Linked DNA regions of Homo sapiens: region 1 is linked to region 2. Evidence: fine-mapped expression QTL. Tissue or cell type: whole blood. Region 2 holds a variant in brackets; the other region holds the start of a gene. All regions are shown on one strand. Distances are between the middles of the regions.

Region 1 (8,101 bases), 97 kb after region 2:
ACACCAGGTCTTGCCTAACATGAACAGCCTTAGGAAATATTGCCATTCTCCAACCACTCCACCCCCGACTGCTAGCCCCAAGGGAAAGAGGATATGAAGGGGTTGGGGTGTCTTGCAGTGCTGGGAGATCCACCCCCCTGGGGCTGGAGCCTAGAGACAGAGTCTTTTTGTTAACCAGTTTGTTAAGTAGGAAGAACAATAATCAGAGTAAGAGGCTATTCATTGCTGAACACCCTAGAGGAAGTGTGAGGGGGTGAGACATTTGGTTCTCAGGTAGGAGGATGGCCACTGGGGCACAGGCTATGATATTCTCTTGTTCCCAGGTGAAGACACACCTGCAGGCACAGGCAGCCTCAGAAATTGCTGTAGGGCACCAGTATAAGCATCAGGTGAGGGTTCCCAAGTCTGCCAAAGTCCCTGACCATCCTTTCTCTTTTCCCCTAGCTTTCTGCCTGCACCCAACAGATCCAATCCCAGCCACTGCTCTGCTCAACCCATCGGTTCTGTCCCATTTTGCCCCTGGAGTCTACCCAGACCCTCTTTACTCTTTTTTTAGATGGAGTCTCGCTCTGTTGCCCAGGCTGAAGTGCATTGGCACGATCTCGGCTCACTGCAACCTCCGCTTCCCGGGTTCAAGTGATTCTCCTGCCTCAGCCTCCCGAGTAGCTTGGGACTACAGGCGTGCACCACCACACCCAGCTAAATTTTTTTTGTTTTGTTTTGTTTTGTTGAGACAGAGTCTTGCTCTGTTGCCCAGGCTGGAGTGCAGTGGCGCAGTCTTGGCTCACTGCAACCTCCACCTCCCGGGTTCAAGTGATTCTCCTGCTGCAACCTCTTGAGTAGCTGGGATTACAGCCATGCGCCACCACGTCCAGCTAATTTTTGTAATTTTAGTAGAGATGGGGTTTCACCATGTTGGTCAGGCTGGTCTCGAACTCCTGAACTTGTGATCCGCCCGCCTCGGCCTCCCAAAGTGCTGGGATTACAGGCATGAGCCACTGCACCCGGCAATTTTTGTATTTTTAATAGAGATGGGGTTTCACCATGTTGGCCAAGCTGGTCTCAAACTCCTGACCTCAGGTGATCCACCCGCCTGGGCCTCCCAAAGTGCTAGGATTACAGGCGTGAGCCACCGTGCCTGATGCCTCTTTCCAATATGTACTCCAGTTCCTCTAATTTTCTGCCCCTGTTTCTCCTGACCAGTGAATGGCCTCACTTGCATACATCCCGCCCCAGTTCTTGGGTGCCCAGGGAAGGAACAATGGGGTGGCTAGACAACCAAGGGCCCACATTCTGGCTCTAAGCCCACATTGAACTGGTTGTCTGGACAAGAGATTCCTATTAAGGACCCATCCTTGGCAGTGTTAGGATGGCAGCCCCTGATGCTGGGCTGTCTGAACCCCACCCCCGGTCTTCCCCACACTAGGGCATGTTTCAGGCGCTAACCGAGATTGGCCAGAAACATGGTCTGGTGGGGTTATGGCGTGGGGCTCTGGGCGGCCTGCCCCGAGTTATCGTCGGTTCCTCCACCCAGCTGTGCACCTTCTCATCCACCAAGGACCTCCTGAGCCAGTGGGAGGTACTGCCTGGGAAATGGGTGGGTCTGTTTCGGGAAGGGGGGAAGGGGAGGGCAAGCTGCACTAGGCCCTGGAGGGGATGGTGCCCAACATTCACAGGTGAGGGAGTGGCAGGAGGGCTTGGAGGTCAACTCTTTAGACCCTTCCCACAGTTCTCTTGTCACTTCCTCCCAGAAGGGGTACCTGAGCCTTCAGGGTACCCTGGCCTTCCTCCTTCTCACTGTTTTTGCACTGTTATAACTGGTGCAGTGGAAGCTCCCCCAGTTACCAGCATCTGTGTCCCCAGGGCAGGGACTGTCCTGTCCTTGGGGTGTAATAGTTGGCTGGTTGACAACGCTCTTCCTCTCTACCCCCTTAGATCTTTCCTCCCCAGAGCTGGAAGTTGGCGCTGGTGGCTGCCATGATGAGTGGCATTGCAGTTGTCTTGGCCATGGCACCCTTTGATGTGGCCTGCACAAGGCTCTACAACCAGCCCACAGATGCACAGGGCAAGGTAAGGAAGTGCTCTGGGATGCAGGCGGGAAGCAGGGGATGGGGAAGGCAGATTGCGGGTGCAGGTGGGATAGCCTGAAATGCAGCCTGTAGAGGTGCTGCCCCTGGTGGGCTCTGACAAACTCCTTCTCTGTGCTCTCCCTCCCTCTCTGACACACTCTCAGGGCCTCATGTACCGGGGGATACTGGACGCTCTGCTGCAGACAGCTCGGACCGAGGGCATTTTTGGCATGTACAAGGGTATAGGTGCCTCCTACTTCCGCCTCGGCCCCCACACCATCCTCTCCCTCTTCTTCTGGGACCAGCTGCGCTCCCTCTACTACACAGACACTAAATAACAGCCGCTTTCCCAGTCTCCACCAAATGAGCACTCCTTGGCCACTTGTGCCTCCACCACTATGTCCTGGTGACTACTGATTAGGTGACCTTTCATCCATCCATGGGGGACAGCCAACCCCACTCCCCATCTGTTCTCAGGGTTGAATCACTACAAGAGATGAGTTTCCCTTCTTTCCTTGGGTGTTGCTTTAAACCTTCCCTACCCATTCCCTGGGTAACTCACACCCCTCTCTCAGGGCTGAACGAGTCATCCCAAAGTGTATTTCCTCCCACTCACCACTGCCACCCTTGAGTCCCTCCTGCTCCCATGCACAGTTTTAAACTCCTCCCTCCAAAACCAAAGGGAATCGAGAGACCCAATTCCCAGGCGTCTGGGACCCAGGTGTCCTGTTAGATTCAAAGGCACAGAGATTATATTGATTATAAAGCAAGTTTATTCTGAAGAGGGATTGTCTTATGTTTACGCACAGGGAAGAAATAAGAGGAAACCCTCTTTTCAACCTCTTTTCCCCCTCACAGAACCGAGTCCCCAAGTTCTCAGCAACATCATGCAGTGCTTCAGCGCCTTTACTGGGGACCAAAGATGTTAGGATCGTGAAGGGTCAGACTGGTCACCAGCTGTTCAAAGTCACCCAGGCTCCAGGGTGCAGGTGACAGATTTTCGGGGCCAAGAGATGACCTGTTGTCAGGGCTTGGGGTGGGGGAACAGATGGAGACAGAACATCATCCAGGCCTGAGGTTTGGAAATTGCCAATTCCTGTTCCCCAGAGGACCTGGGTATCAGTTACCCCAAACCTCTGGCCCACTCCTGCTTCCTTGGAGGATCCCACCAGTGAGTCTCCCTGTTCTGTCCCTCCCAGCCCGATTCTCCTGGGAACCCAGTCATGAGATACCCGCCCGTTCCTTCCTCCTTACGGGGGCTGATTGAAGGTAAGCAAGAGATCAGTCTGGTACTGGGGCAGCCTCAGCAAGGCCTGATGAAGTGTCACGTCCTTTGCTACCTAAGGGGATCAGAGTCAGGATGCTTACCTGGATCTCTGCGTCCCCGCTACCGCCCTTCCAGGACATTACACACTCTCGGGCCCTCACCTGCTGGTTTTCCTTAGCTATCTGCTGCTTGCCAGAGAGGACCCAGGCTTCTTGACAGCGGCCCCTCAGGGCCAGGTTCTCCAAACTGAGAGGCTGAACAGACTCCACATGGACAGCCCTAGCCCCCTGCACGCCACCAACATCCTCAAAGTGGTACCTGGAGTAGGGAAGCGGGGTCAGGAAGGGACATCTCTGGTCGCCTCCCCGGGAGCATCTTTAAGTTGCAGGCCTGGCTCCCGGCCCGTGCGTGGTCTCACCGCCCGGATTAACCGTCGGCCGCGGGCCCCGCCCACTGGTCCGACCCCGCCCCTGCCATTGGCCAGCCGGGGGCCATTCCCTCACCGCGCAGCCGCTTCGCCCCGTACGTGGGCCTGCAGCTCGAGAAGTTCCACTATCAGGCTCTGGTCCGTCACGGGATGGCAGAAAACTTCTTGATTGTCCGGGACCGGTCGGAGGTCGCTGGAGTGAGGCGAGGCAGACCCTGGTTGACCCCGGTCTCTTCCCACAACCCACCCAGTCAGCCGCCCCTGGGCGCCCCGGCCTTCTCACCTTACGTCAATGGCCCCCATGGGGAGGATGGCGGAAAAGGCGCCCCCGAACAGCGGGCAGTCTCTCGTGGGCTCCATGGGTCTGAGGCTGGGTTATGGGCATTAGAAAGGTTTAAAAGAAGTCCACATTGGGTCACGTGGCATCGGCTCCCTGGGTTTCGCAGCTGCCACCGCCACCCGGGTCTGGCTTAGCTCCCGGATCCTTTAAGATTTGGCTCCGCCCTGCGCTCTCGTTGGCCAATCGGCGCCAAGACCCTGGGGGCGGGGGTCAGCGGCTTTGCTCCGGAAGCCGCGCTCTTAGGAGTGCGCCTGGCGGGACGGTGGGGTCTGCCTTGGGGTTGGACTTAGGGTTAGGGTCTATGTCGCCCCCGGTGGTCACGAGCATGCTCCCGCCAGCCTCCTCTTGATTGATTGATTGATTGATTGATTGACAGGTCTCGCTGTGTCGCCCAGGCTGTAATGCAGTGGCGCGATCACCGCTCACTGCAGTCTCCACCTCCAGGACTCAAGTGATACTCCTGCCTCAGCCTCTTGAGTGGCTCCTGCTCCCGCCACCACGCCCGGCTAAATTTTTAATTACTTGTAGAAATGGGGCGGGGTGGGGAGTGTCTCCCAATCTTGCCCAGGCTGGCCTCAAACTCCTGGACTCAAGCGATCCTCCCGCCTCGGCTCCCTAAGTGCTGGAATTACAGGCGAGAGCCACAGCGCCTGGCCTCCTCGTCCTTTTCAAGTGGTCACACCTTCCAAGAAGGTCGCCTGAGACCCTCCTGAGGGGCAGGTGCTCGTCAAAGGGGCCCACGTCTAGGTAGGGTCTCTTGAGTCAGGAAAGCATAGTTTCACGGTGTTCTGGGCCTCTGAAAGAAGAATGGGCTGCCACCCAGACCGCTAATTCATAGATCTGCTGCTGGGAATTAGGGGAACAATGCGTCCAGGTTAGGATTCAGGTCTCACATCTTCCTGAAAGTGAGAGCCAACCTGGGTATTAGAAATCTAATTCCTCTCAAATATTTGCCTTGGGAATGCTCCCGGGCAGGTGCAACCCCACCCCCAGCTCCACACACCTGGACAGAAGCACAGATTAAACCCTCTTTTGTTTGTCTTTTACAGATTTGTTGTGTTCTTTAAGTTTTAACTTCACTATATCATTTCAGTTCATTTCTCTATTCATCTTTGATCCTCAGCACCCGGCACGGTGTTTAGAGCATAACAGACCTGATATATATTGGGTTTTTTTGTTTTGTTTTGTTTTTGAGATGGAGTTTCACTCTTGTTGCCCAGGCTGGAGTGCAATGGCATGATCTTGGCTCACTGCAACCTCCGCCTCCTGGGTTCAAGCTGTTCTCCTGCCCCAACCTCCCAAGTAGCTGGATTACAGGCATGCACCACCACACCCAGCTAATTTTGTATTTTTAGTAGAGATGGAGTTTCTCCATGTTGGTCAGGTGAGTCTCGAACTTCCGACCTCAGATGATCCGCCTGCCTTGGCCTCCCAAAGTGCTGGGATTATTACAGGCGTGAGCCAGCGTGCCCAGCCCAGACCTAATATATATTGTTAAGTGATTGAATAAACTCAATGCAAATGTCTGGAACCCAGGAGATCACCCATACCCTCATGGATTCTAGATGTCACCTACTTCCCAGCCAAGAATTGGGCAAGAGGACTCTGATCTTGAGGCCATTCCACAGGGTTCCAAGTGCTGACCATACCTCTGGACCCTAATGACTTAGTGAAATGAAGCCAAAGGGTACATATTTATTGGTCTCTTACCTTGCCAGGCCCTAATGTGAAGGGCTGGAGATACAAAGACATTTAGGACACAGCCCCCGATGCCTCACTGAAGGAACAGTGGAGCACACTTTGAGTCTTTTTTTGTTTTTTTTTTTGAGAGGCGGTCTCACTGTTGCCAAGACTAGACTGTAGTGGTGCAGTCGTAGCTCACTGCAGCCTCAACCTTGTGGGCTCAAGCCATCCTCCTGCCTCAGCCTCCTGAGTAGCTGGGACTACAGGCATGCACCACCATGCTCCGGTAATTTTTGTGTGTGTGTGTGTGTTTTATTTTAGGGATGGAGTCTCACTGTGTTGCCCAGGCTGGTCTCGGACTTCTGGTCTCAAGTGATCCTCCTGCCTTGGCCTCCCAAAGTGATGGGATTATAGGCATGCGCCACCATGCCTGGCCCATACTTTGAGTCTTAAAGTTTGACTCAGAATTCAGTAGGACATCCTAGGGGTATTCTAGCTGGGGGAACATCAGGAGCAAAAACTTGGAGATGAGAGGGCATATTTTGGAGAAAGCAAGTGTATCTGTTTGGCAAGGGAGGGTAGGATGGGAATGGGTGGCAGGGAGCTGCAAACACAGTCAGGTGTGCAGGGTTTTTGTAGCGCACACTAAGGAGCTTGACTCCTCATTTCTTACTATAGCCATCAGACTCCTCTCTGAGTCTCATTTCCTCATCTCTAAAATGCTGTTGGGGGGCCAGGCGCCGTGGCTCACACCTGTAATCCCAGCACTTTGGGAGGCCCAGGTGGGTGGATCACCTGAGATCAGGAGTTCTAGACCAGCCTGGCCAACATGGTCAAACCCTGTCTCTACTAAACATACAAAAAAAAAAAAAAACAAAGGAAGAAATCAGATATGGATGTAGTTGAGTCTGACCTATTTCTGGGTAAAGAGAGTAGAATAAGTTTGCTGTATGAGGAATTTGACAGAGCGGGGGCGTTACAGGCTCTAGAGGGAAAGAAGGACCCCAGCCATGGGAAACAAAAGGAGCCAGGTCAGAGGAGTCCACCCCATGATGCTTCTCTGGGATAATGAGTGACAGACCTCTCTGTCCCTCTCTCCTCCTTGCTGCCAGCCTGCTCTCCAGCTCCATTCCCCACCAGGGGCAATACTGGCTCTGGCTGCTTTGGGAGCAGTCAAGCAGGTAGAGTCCTTGGAAAGGGACCTACAGGGACATAGAAGTTAACAGGGTGCCTGCACCAGGCATAAGGGGGTGTGGAGGCCTGTTACATGGGCCCAGAGGAGGTCACGCCAGGTCAGGAAGGCTGAGAAAAAAGCCCCCCCAACTTCCTCATTTTGGGTGTCTGGCCTGTCTCATGTTCTCCCATGAGCCCTACGCAGCTGGGGACCCCTGGCCCTCCACAATTCTGTGGGCTCTTGGGGGCTGCTCAGCCAGACCTCCTCTGAATGAATGGGGTGGAAGGCCACCCTCACTTGGCAAATCCCCACGCTTGGCTCCACTTCCCCTTCTCCCTTCACCTTTTTTTTTGTGTGCCTGTCAATTCTGCTGGCCCTGCCACCTGTCGACTCCCTCAAGTGTTCAAATTCCAACTTCCCAAGGGACAGGATCCAACTGGGTCGATTAGTTGTTATTCAATCTGAAAGTACCTATTTGGCCGGCTCTCCTGCCTGGCCACTCCTCAGGCCACCACCCAAACACAAGGGAGATCTCTGGTCCAGCTGGCTGTGGCTAGGATGATAAGTATCAGGGGACAAATCTCAGTAGAGAGAAGGCCAGCAGCCACTTTTCTCAGGCGAATGTGAGGGTATGGCTCGCTGTCAGCCCACTGGTTGCAAGTAGGCCTGCAACTGATTGATTCTCTACACCTGGGACATTCCCTTATCCAATGCCCTGCATGCAGTTGATGCAGTTGTTTGCTATGGGGACAAGAGTCCCAGAGACTCTCCCCTTTAGGGCACCAAGAGATGGACTCAGATCAGAGAGACAACACCACACCCAAAGTCAAGCATTCCTTTGAGTTAGGACAATGAATATTTCTATTAAGCAGGGGTTTTCGTCCTTTTTTCTACTGTGGACTGCTTTGGCAGTTTTGTGAAGCCCATGATCCCCTATTCGGTGTAATGTTATTATTTTTATTTTTTCTGTGTTTTTGAGACAGGGTCTTATTCTGTCACCCAGGCTGGAGTGCAGTGGCATGATAACAGCTCACTGCAGCCTCAACCTCCTGGGCTTAAGCCATCCTCCCACCTTGGACTCTCAAAGAGATTACAGGCATGGGCCAGGTGCGGTGGCTCACGCCTGTAATCCTAGCACTTT
Region 2 (8,101 bases):
CAGGAGTTCAAGACCAGCCTGGCCAACATGGTGAAACCCTGTCTCTACTAAAAATACAAAAATTAGTCGGGCTTGGTGGTACGTGCCCGTAATCCCAGCTAATAGGGAGGCTGAGGCAGGAGAATTGCTTGAACCCAGGAGGCGGAAGTTGCAGTGAGCTGAGATCGCACCGTTGCACTCCAGCCTGGGCGACAGAGCAAGACTCTGTCTCAAAAAAAAAGAAAAAGAAAGAAAGGGGGGGGAATAAGAATTTACATTCCTATTTGCTTACTTATGCATCAAAAAAGTGGGAATGCAGGGCACGGTGGTTCATGCCCAGCACTTTGGGAGGCCAAGGTGGGAGGATCACTTGAGGCCAGGAGTTCAAGACCAGCCTGGGCAACATAGTGAGACCCTATCTCTATTTTTTAAAAAAAATTGTAATTACCTTGTGGTGGCGCACCTCTGTAGCCCCAGCTACTCAGGGGGTTGAGGTGGGAGGGTCCCTTGAGCCCAGGAGGCTGCAGTGAGCTATGATTGCACCAGTGTACTCCAGCCTGAGCAACAGAGTAAGACCTTGATGACAGAAAGAAAAGAAAGACAAGAAGGGCAGAAGGGAGGGAGGGAGGGAGGGAGGGAGGAAGGAAGGAAGGAAGGAAGGAAGGAAGGAAGGAAGGAAGGAAGGAAGGAAGGAAGTTGGGAAGATGTACAAAACACTAATAATTCTGACTAGCCATGGAAAGGAATGAGAAAATGATGGAATGGGAAGGGGAGTTTTCACTTTACCTTTTTTTTTTTTTGAGACGGAGTCTTGCTCTGTCGCCCAGGCTGGAGTGCAGTGGCGCTATCTCGGCTCACTGCAAACTCCGCCTTCAGGGTTCACGCCATTCTCCTGCCTCAGCCTGCCGAGTGGCCGGGACTACAGGCACCCGCCACCAGGCCCAGCTAATTTTTTTGTATTTTTAGTAGAGACAGGATCTCACCGTGTTAGCCAGGATGGTCTTGATCTCCTGACCTTTTGATCCACCCACCTTGACCTCCCAAAGTGCTGGGATTACAGGCGTGAGCCACTGCGCCCGGCCTCACTTTACCTTAAATTTATCCCTTTTGATGTTTGAACCAAGTAAATTTAACATTCAAAAACTGAATTGAAAAATTATTAGAAGCTAAAGATATCTTCAGTGTACACGCCTGTTGCCAAGTAAGATTGCCCCAAGAACAGTCAAGAGCTGCCAAACCACCTGTCCTGTGGTTCGAGAGTGTCAACTACTGGTTTAGTGGGGCTGGTTTGTCTGGTTGGAGGTGTGACATCTTATGCTAACAGGCGCCCAAGGAGTAAGGTTTAAAAATTTAATGTTCTCAGTGTTCCTGAGTTCCTGAGCATTTCTCTGGGCCCCGTCATTGAATGTGCTTATTTTGATTCCCCCTTCTCTTCTTTTCCTCTTTGTTTTCAAATAAAATCTTTTGTTTTAAGCAACCATCATGCAGTGAGGGCACTACAGGACAATACCATTACACAGACAGAGATAGACAGATAGACAGATAGATAGATACATAGATAGATAGATAGATACATAGATAGTAGATAGATAGATAGATAGATAGATAGATAGATAGATAGATAGAGGGATGGATGCCTAGGGTTAAACTTAGTTGCTTTTCTCTTCCTCCCCTTGTCCAGAGGCACCCCAACCCCTGCAACACACACACACACACACACACACACACAGCCACTTCCCATCATAATAACCTTTAACAGTAATACACACTTACACAGTCTGAGCCTACCAGTCAAGCTTAAGGATCCATAGCATTGCCAGCAGGGCCCTGACGAGGGTTGCCAGGATCCTGGACAGGCATATTAGAGACCTCTGTGCCCCTCAGAAACAGTTCCATAACCTCTCCCCTCACTGAACCCTGTGTGACTCACAAGACCACTCAGCTGCTATCTCCTTTTGACCTCCTTGTCAGTATAAATGTCCTTTTTGGGTCCAGGTGCAGTGGCTCATGCCTGTAATCCCAGCACTTTGGGAGGCCGAGGCAAGCGGATCACGAGGTCAGGAGTTCGAGACTAGCCTGGCCAACATGGTGAAACCCTGTCTCTACTAAAAATACAAAAATTAGCCAGGCATGATGGCGTGCACCTGTAATCCCAGCTACTCAGGAGACAGAGGCAGGAGGATCGCTTGAACCCGGGAGGTGGAGGTTACAATGAGCCAAGATTGTGCCACTACACTTCAACCTGGGCAACAGAGTGAGACTCCATCTCAAAAAAAAAAAAGTCCTTTTTCAGGGACACACAATAAACAACTTTGCCTCACCCTTACAACTCCTCCTCCTACCGGGATAAATTAACTCCACAGCTCATTCTCAGCACAAACCACTTGCAGTTCCCAATATGCAGTGGGGTGCAGGCCTGGGCCTTTGCTTATGAGCCTCACTCCGCCTGAAACACACCCCCCCACCCCAACCCCCACTCCACCCCATCTACCTGGAAAACTCCTACCTAGCTTTTCAGAAACAGTATAGTTCCAGGGTTACCTCTGAAGACGTGCCCACTTCCTTGCTCAAGGGAACTGCCAGCTCCTACGCCGCCCCCCCATCCCCCACAAAGCATCCATCGGTGACACTTGATTATGCTTATCTGGTCACATCTGTCTCCTCCTTAACGAAGTGCTCCTTCCGGGGAGGCTAGATCTTATAGATCTTGGTATCTCCAGTGCCTGACACAGAATTTAGTAAACAGTAAGAGCTGGAGAAATATTTGGAGAATGAGTGAATGAATGAATAAACCTGACAGCTTGGTGTTTAGAAAAAAGTTAAGTCTAATCAACTCTGGGTGTGGAATCTAGCTATAATCCCTGCTTTGCTATGTCTGAAGGCTTCAAAATGATCCTAAAGGGACCTTTTTCAAATCCAGGAAGAGGAATGTGGGCAGCGAGGGAGAGAGAGTGCAGTCAGACTAGGCTGCAGGGTGAAGGCAAGACACCCAACAGACACGTTAAGAGAAAGGGGGCCGGGCACGGTGGCTCACGCCTGTAATCCCAGCACTTTGGGACGCCAAGGCGGGCGGATCACGAGGTCAGGAGATCGAGACCATCCTGGCTAACACGGTGAAACCCCGTCTCTACTAAAAATACAAAAAGAAATTAGCCGGGCATGGTGGCGGGAGCCTGTGGTCCCAGCTACTCGGGAGGCTGAGGCAGGAGAATGGCGTGAACCCGGGAGGCAGAGCTTGCAGTGAGCCGAGATAGCGCCACTGCACTCCAGCCTGGGTGACAGAGCCAGACTCCGTCTCAAAAAAAAAAAAAAGAGAGAAAGGGACGGCCAGGCGTGGTAGCTCACGCCTGTAATCCCGGCACTTTGGGAGGCCGAGGCAGGCAGATCACTTGAGGTCTGGAGTTCGAGACCATCCTGGCCAATGTGGTGAAACCCCATCTCTACCAAAAATAAAAAAATTAGCCAGCCGGGAGTAGTGGCTCATGCCTGTAATCTCAGCTACTCAGAAGGCTGAGGCAGGAGAATTGCTTGAACCCAGGAGGCAGAGGTTGCAGTGAGCAGATATTGC[G/A]CCACTGTACTCCAGCCTGGGTGACAGAGCGAGACTCCGCCTCAAAAAAAAAACAAAAAACAAAAAAAAACAGATAGGGACGTTCTAACTAGGCTACTGGCCATTTGCATCTGTATGGACAATTTGTACCCTGCAAATTTTCACATTGTATCAAGTGTCATGCTGTATGGATGGTGGGCTGAAGGTTTAATTTTTTTTTTTTTTGAGACAGAGTCTTGCTCTGTCTCCCAGGCTGAAGTGCAGTGGCATGATCTCCACTCACTGCAAGCTCCGCCTCCCAAGTTCATGCGATTCTCCTGCCTCAGCCTCCCGAGTAGCTGGGATTACAGGTGCACACCGCCACGCCCGGCTAATTTTTTTTTTTTTTAGTAGAGATGGGGTTTCGCCATGCTGGCCAGGCTGGTCTTAAACTTCTGGCCTTAACTTCTGACCTCAAGTCTGCCTGCCTCGGCCTCCCAAAGTGCTAGGATTACAGGCGTGAGCCACCATGCCCGGCCTGAAGGTTTCATTTTGAGACTCGGTATTGAACAGAGGGAGAAAGAAAGGAAGGCCTGGGAGGGTAGGGTGTCAGCAGAGGATGTGAGGGCTGAGGAAACAGAGAGGGCCTTGGTGGGAAGACAGGAAGACGATGGGGACACCCGAACAGGAAGGGAGTTGGGAAACTAGTAAGGACAGTAGGAAGAAAGAGAAGGAGTGACAACGTGAAGGCCAGAAAGGCAAGGCAAGGAAGGAAGGCAGGCACCTTCGGCAGCTCCCTAGGACTTCCAGACCCAAATCACACTCAGCTCAGCCCTAGAGCCCCTGGGCTCCCGTCTAAATGCCTCTCTTCAGCGGCAAGGACCTGGTTCCTGGAAAACACGAGTCACGCTGCTTCACACCTCCAAGCCTTCCTTCAAGCAATTCCTACTGCCTTGTGGAGCGAATGCTAACATTCTTCCAATTCCAGTCAATGCTGACCTCACCTCAGAAGTCTTCCCTGACCCCAGAGCTCCCTTCTGCTCCTGAATCACAGAGACAGCAAGGGCAGCTGGCTCAGCGAGCACTTTTCCTGTGGTCTCGTGGCTGTTGATTCCCTTGTCTATCTTTTCTTGTAGACAGTAAACTTCCTGAAGGCACAAACTTTGACCTATTTTGCATCGCCAGTGTCTAGTTTCAGGGCTGGCCCAGGAAAGAAGCCTCATAAATATTTGTTGAAAAGAGTCGCAGCAGAGGAATTCTTGCTGAATTTTTCAGTGATGAATAAAATCTAGGGCTACTTCCTTCACAGCATATTTAAGAACACAACTATTTTTAAATCATGAAAACGCATGTTCGTTGCTGACCATCCTCTGGGCAGTCCTGACTATGAGGTTCCCACAAATTGGGGCCATATACAGTTCCCAGAAGAGGCCGGGGAGCCAGCCTGCACGGGTTCTGCTGTGACTTATGGGTCCTGTATAACCTTGCACCAAGTTCCTCTCATTTCTCTGTGGCTGAGTTGCCCAATCTGTAAAATGGGGACAATAATACCAGCAACAACAGAGCCATTTTGTGGATTAAAAGAATTCATGATGTAAAGTGTAGAGAAGAGCGTCCCCACACTCAGAAGGCTCACTACGTCTTCGGTATTCTTGTGAAACGCCTGTCCTCTGTCACTGTGACACCCGTGTCATTCATTCAGCAGAAGCCGTTCAGCGCCGGTGCCTGCTGCACTGCCGCTGCCTCAGAAACCATTTGCAGGGGCCGGGCGCGGTGGCTCACGCCTGTAATCCCAGCACTTTGGGAGGCTGAGGCGGGCGGATTGCCTGAGGTCGGGAGTTCGAGACCAGCCTGGCCAACATGGTGAACCCTCGTCTCTACTAAAACTACAAAAATTAGCCGGGCGTGGTGGCGGGCGCCTGTAATCCCAGCTACTCAGGAGGCTGAGGCAGGAGAACCCGGGAGGCGGAGGTTGCAGTGAGTGGAGATCGTGCCAGTGCGCTCCAGCCTGAGCAACAAGAGCGAAACTGTCTCAAAAAGAAGAAAAAGACACACACACACACACACACACACACACACACACACACACACACACACACACACACACACACACACGAAGAAGAAGAAAAGAAACCATTTGCAGGGAGCGCACGGCTTCCGTCTGGTCCTGAACTGGACGCAAACAGGCCGAGCATTTAGAAACCCGCGCAGCTCCCCGCACCGAGAGGCTTCCTCTCGCCTGGCTCCTTCGAAGCGTGGTCTGGACCAGCACCTCCCACAGCACTGGGGGCGCCTTGGAAACGCGGCCTTGGACCTATTTCCGCGGGGGCAGGCGGCGATCGGTGGCCCTGGTCCTCGCAAGGCCCCTCACCACCCAGAACTGAATCTCTGGCGGGCCCTGCTGTGCGGTCAGCAGACGCCCAGGTGCAGGGGCGGTGGCCGGCGTCGCGGTGGAGCTCGTTAAAGTACCGGCACGCTGGCCGCGCCCACGCCACGGGCGGGAGGGGACGGTGAGTGCAGGGACCCAGGCGACCGGCCGGCCGGCGTCCCCGCGCCTCCTGGCGGCCAGAAGCAGGGCCTGCGCTTCCCCGGCTAAGGGGTGCCGGCCCCCGCCCCGGCACCTGGGAGTGAAGGTACCAGCGGGTCTCCTGGGCGGTCTCCTGGGGCCGCTCGTTCCTTCATCACCCCCAGGGGCAGTTGGACCCTGAGCAGCCTTAGCCAATAGCCCCGGGACTACCCTTCCCAGAGGATTCAGCGGCAGCACCCGGGTCTCGGAAGGGAGACACTAGGACCTGGAGGAGGGGAGTTTTGCAATCCCTCGCAGTTCCCCTCCTAGCCACTAGGTGACACTAGCCATAAATTTATTTCCCAGTTTACTCCCCTCGCTCAAACTCCGCGCCCCTCTCGCTCCGAGAGACATAGGTCTCGCGAGATCTTTGGTAAACTTACAGAACCGGAAGCAGCGTGTAGTTCTCTTCCCTTTTGCGGCCATCACCGAAGCGGGAGCGGGTAAGGATTCGGCGGGCAAGCGGGTGTAATCAGCAGCCATCCGTTCTTGGGCATGGTGGCTTCCGACCGCGGGGACCCCGAGAGTCTCTTGTCGGCCGAGTAGCAGCCAGGAAGGAGAGACTGGGATGGTTTTTTATCTGTTGCTTTCTTAAATCAAGGGCCGCCGGGCCGGAGATGGATGGAGGGACCGGGGATTTGGGAACTCGAAAACGAGCTGAGGGAAGGGAGCCTGTGGAAATAGACTGGAGTCTGGGTAGTGTCGTTTCCTAGAGAATGGTCTCGAAGTAACTTCTCGGTAAAGTCTTCACGGAATTTCCAGACCACACTTGCCCACTGGGAGGCTTTTAGGACCCGAGACGTGTGCAGGCTTTTCCAGGTTCGGGTTGGTGGGCCTTATTCATTTTGGCGGGGCTATACGTATTCACTCTTAAGCCTGTAGAAGATGAACGTTGATTGTACCTTCTAAAACGTGAGGTTATAGTTAAGAGAATTGCGTTGTCGGTCTGCTCAGCAGAGATGTAAGTCCAGTCTTGATTTCCTCAGGCACTACTTGAGGAGTTGGGAGAGTGTAACTAAAAGGTCTTATAACTAGGACAAGTGTTTTTGATGCAAAAGTCTTTAGTCCGTAAACATATACAGAAAACACCCGAATAAAACAAAAAATAAAAAGTTTCGAGCTTCGGTTGATAGGCCCTTCCGATCAAACAGTTTTTGTTGAAGTTGCACAACATGACACTGCCTATGATCATTCTAGACTATCAAGATAAAATCATTGCGGTTATTTGTTTGGAAGCTGGATGAGATTTTGGTCATTTAAGAGTCTTTTTAACTTTTTATTTAGCCAAAATGAAGTTTAATCCCTTTGTGACTTCCGACCGAAGCAAGAATCGCAAAAGGCATTTCAATGCACCTTCCCACATTCGAAGGAAGATTATGTCTTCCCCTCTTTCCAAAGAGCTGAGACAGAAGTACAACGTGCGATCCATGCCCATCCGAAAGGATGATGAAGTTCAGGTGTGTATCCCTACTTGTTCTCGTTGTCTTGATGGATATTTTACGCACTTAGCTTAGAAGAGAGATTGCATTCCTGAGAAAGATGCTTCTGAGACTCTTGCTCCCAAAGAGTGGCAAGATGAGTTGAGCCAGGGACCAAAAAACAGTAAGTAAGCTGCTTTTCAGTTTTTAATTGTATTATTTGGTGAAAATCTTTTTTTTTTTTTTTTTTGAGATGAAGTCTCGCTCTTGTCCCCCCCAGGCTGGAGTGCAGTGGTGCCATCTCAGCTCACTGCAACCTTCGCCTCCCGGGTTCAGGCGATTCTCCTGCCTCAGCCTCCCGAGTAGCTGGGATTACAAGCGCCCGCCACCACGGCTCGGCTAATTTTTGTGTTTTTAGTAGAGGCGGGGTTTCACCATGTTGGGCAGGGTGGTCTCGAACTCATGGCGTCAGGTGATCAGCCCGCCTCAGCCTCCCAAAGTGCTGGGATTACAGGCGTGAGCCACCGCGCCCGGCTGAGATGGGGTCTCACTCTTACCCAGACTGGAGTGCAGTTGCGTGGTCATGGCTCTTGTGGGCTCAAGTGATGCTCC

The links. PIP is the estimated chance that this variant, and not a neighbour inherited with it, causes the effect.
Region 1: RANGRF starts here. The variant in region 2 is fine-mapped to the expression of RANGRF in whole blood (INTERVAL, PIP above 0.99).

The regions. Positions count from the first base shown.
Region 1 is chr17:8,284,811-8,292,911 of GRCh38, reverse strand. It overlaps RANGRF (RAN guanine nucleotide release factor), which reads right to left and starts at 4,242. Exons shown (of 5, transcript NM_016492.5): 1 at 4,047-4,242; 2 at 3,840-3,956; 3 at 3,498-3,654; 4 at 3,324-3,409; 5 at 2,825-3,099. The coding sequence starts at 4,123. The coding sequence ends at 2,976. It overlaps SLC25A35 (solute carrier family 25 member 35), which reads left to right. Exons shown (of 5, transcript NM_001320870.2): 2 at 324-389; 3 at 1,427-1,579; 4 at 1,936-2,070; 5 at 2,234-2,851. The coding sequence ends at 2,407. RefSeq lists enhancers at 3,520-3,589, 3,870-3,989, 4,350-4,579, 7,611-8,101 and a silencer at 3,740-3,789.
Region 2 is chr17:8,381,570-8,389,670 of GRCh38, reverse strand. RPL26 (ribosomal protein L26) reads left to right here and starts at 6,478. Exons shown (of 4, transcript NM_000987.5): 1 at 6,478-6,514; 2 at 7,356-7,528. The coding sequence starts at 7,361. RefSeq lists a silencer at 5,884-6,153 and enhancers at 5,585-6,302, 6,554-6,723, 6,303-7,020. The variant G/A (reference allele first, on the strand shown) is at 3,548.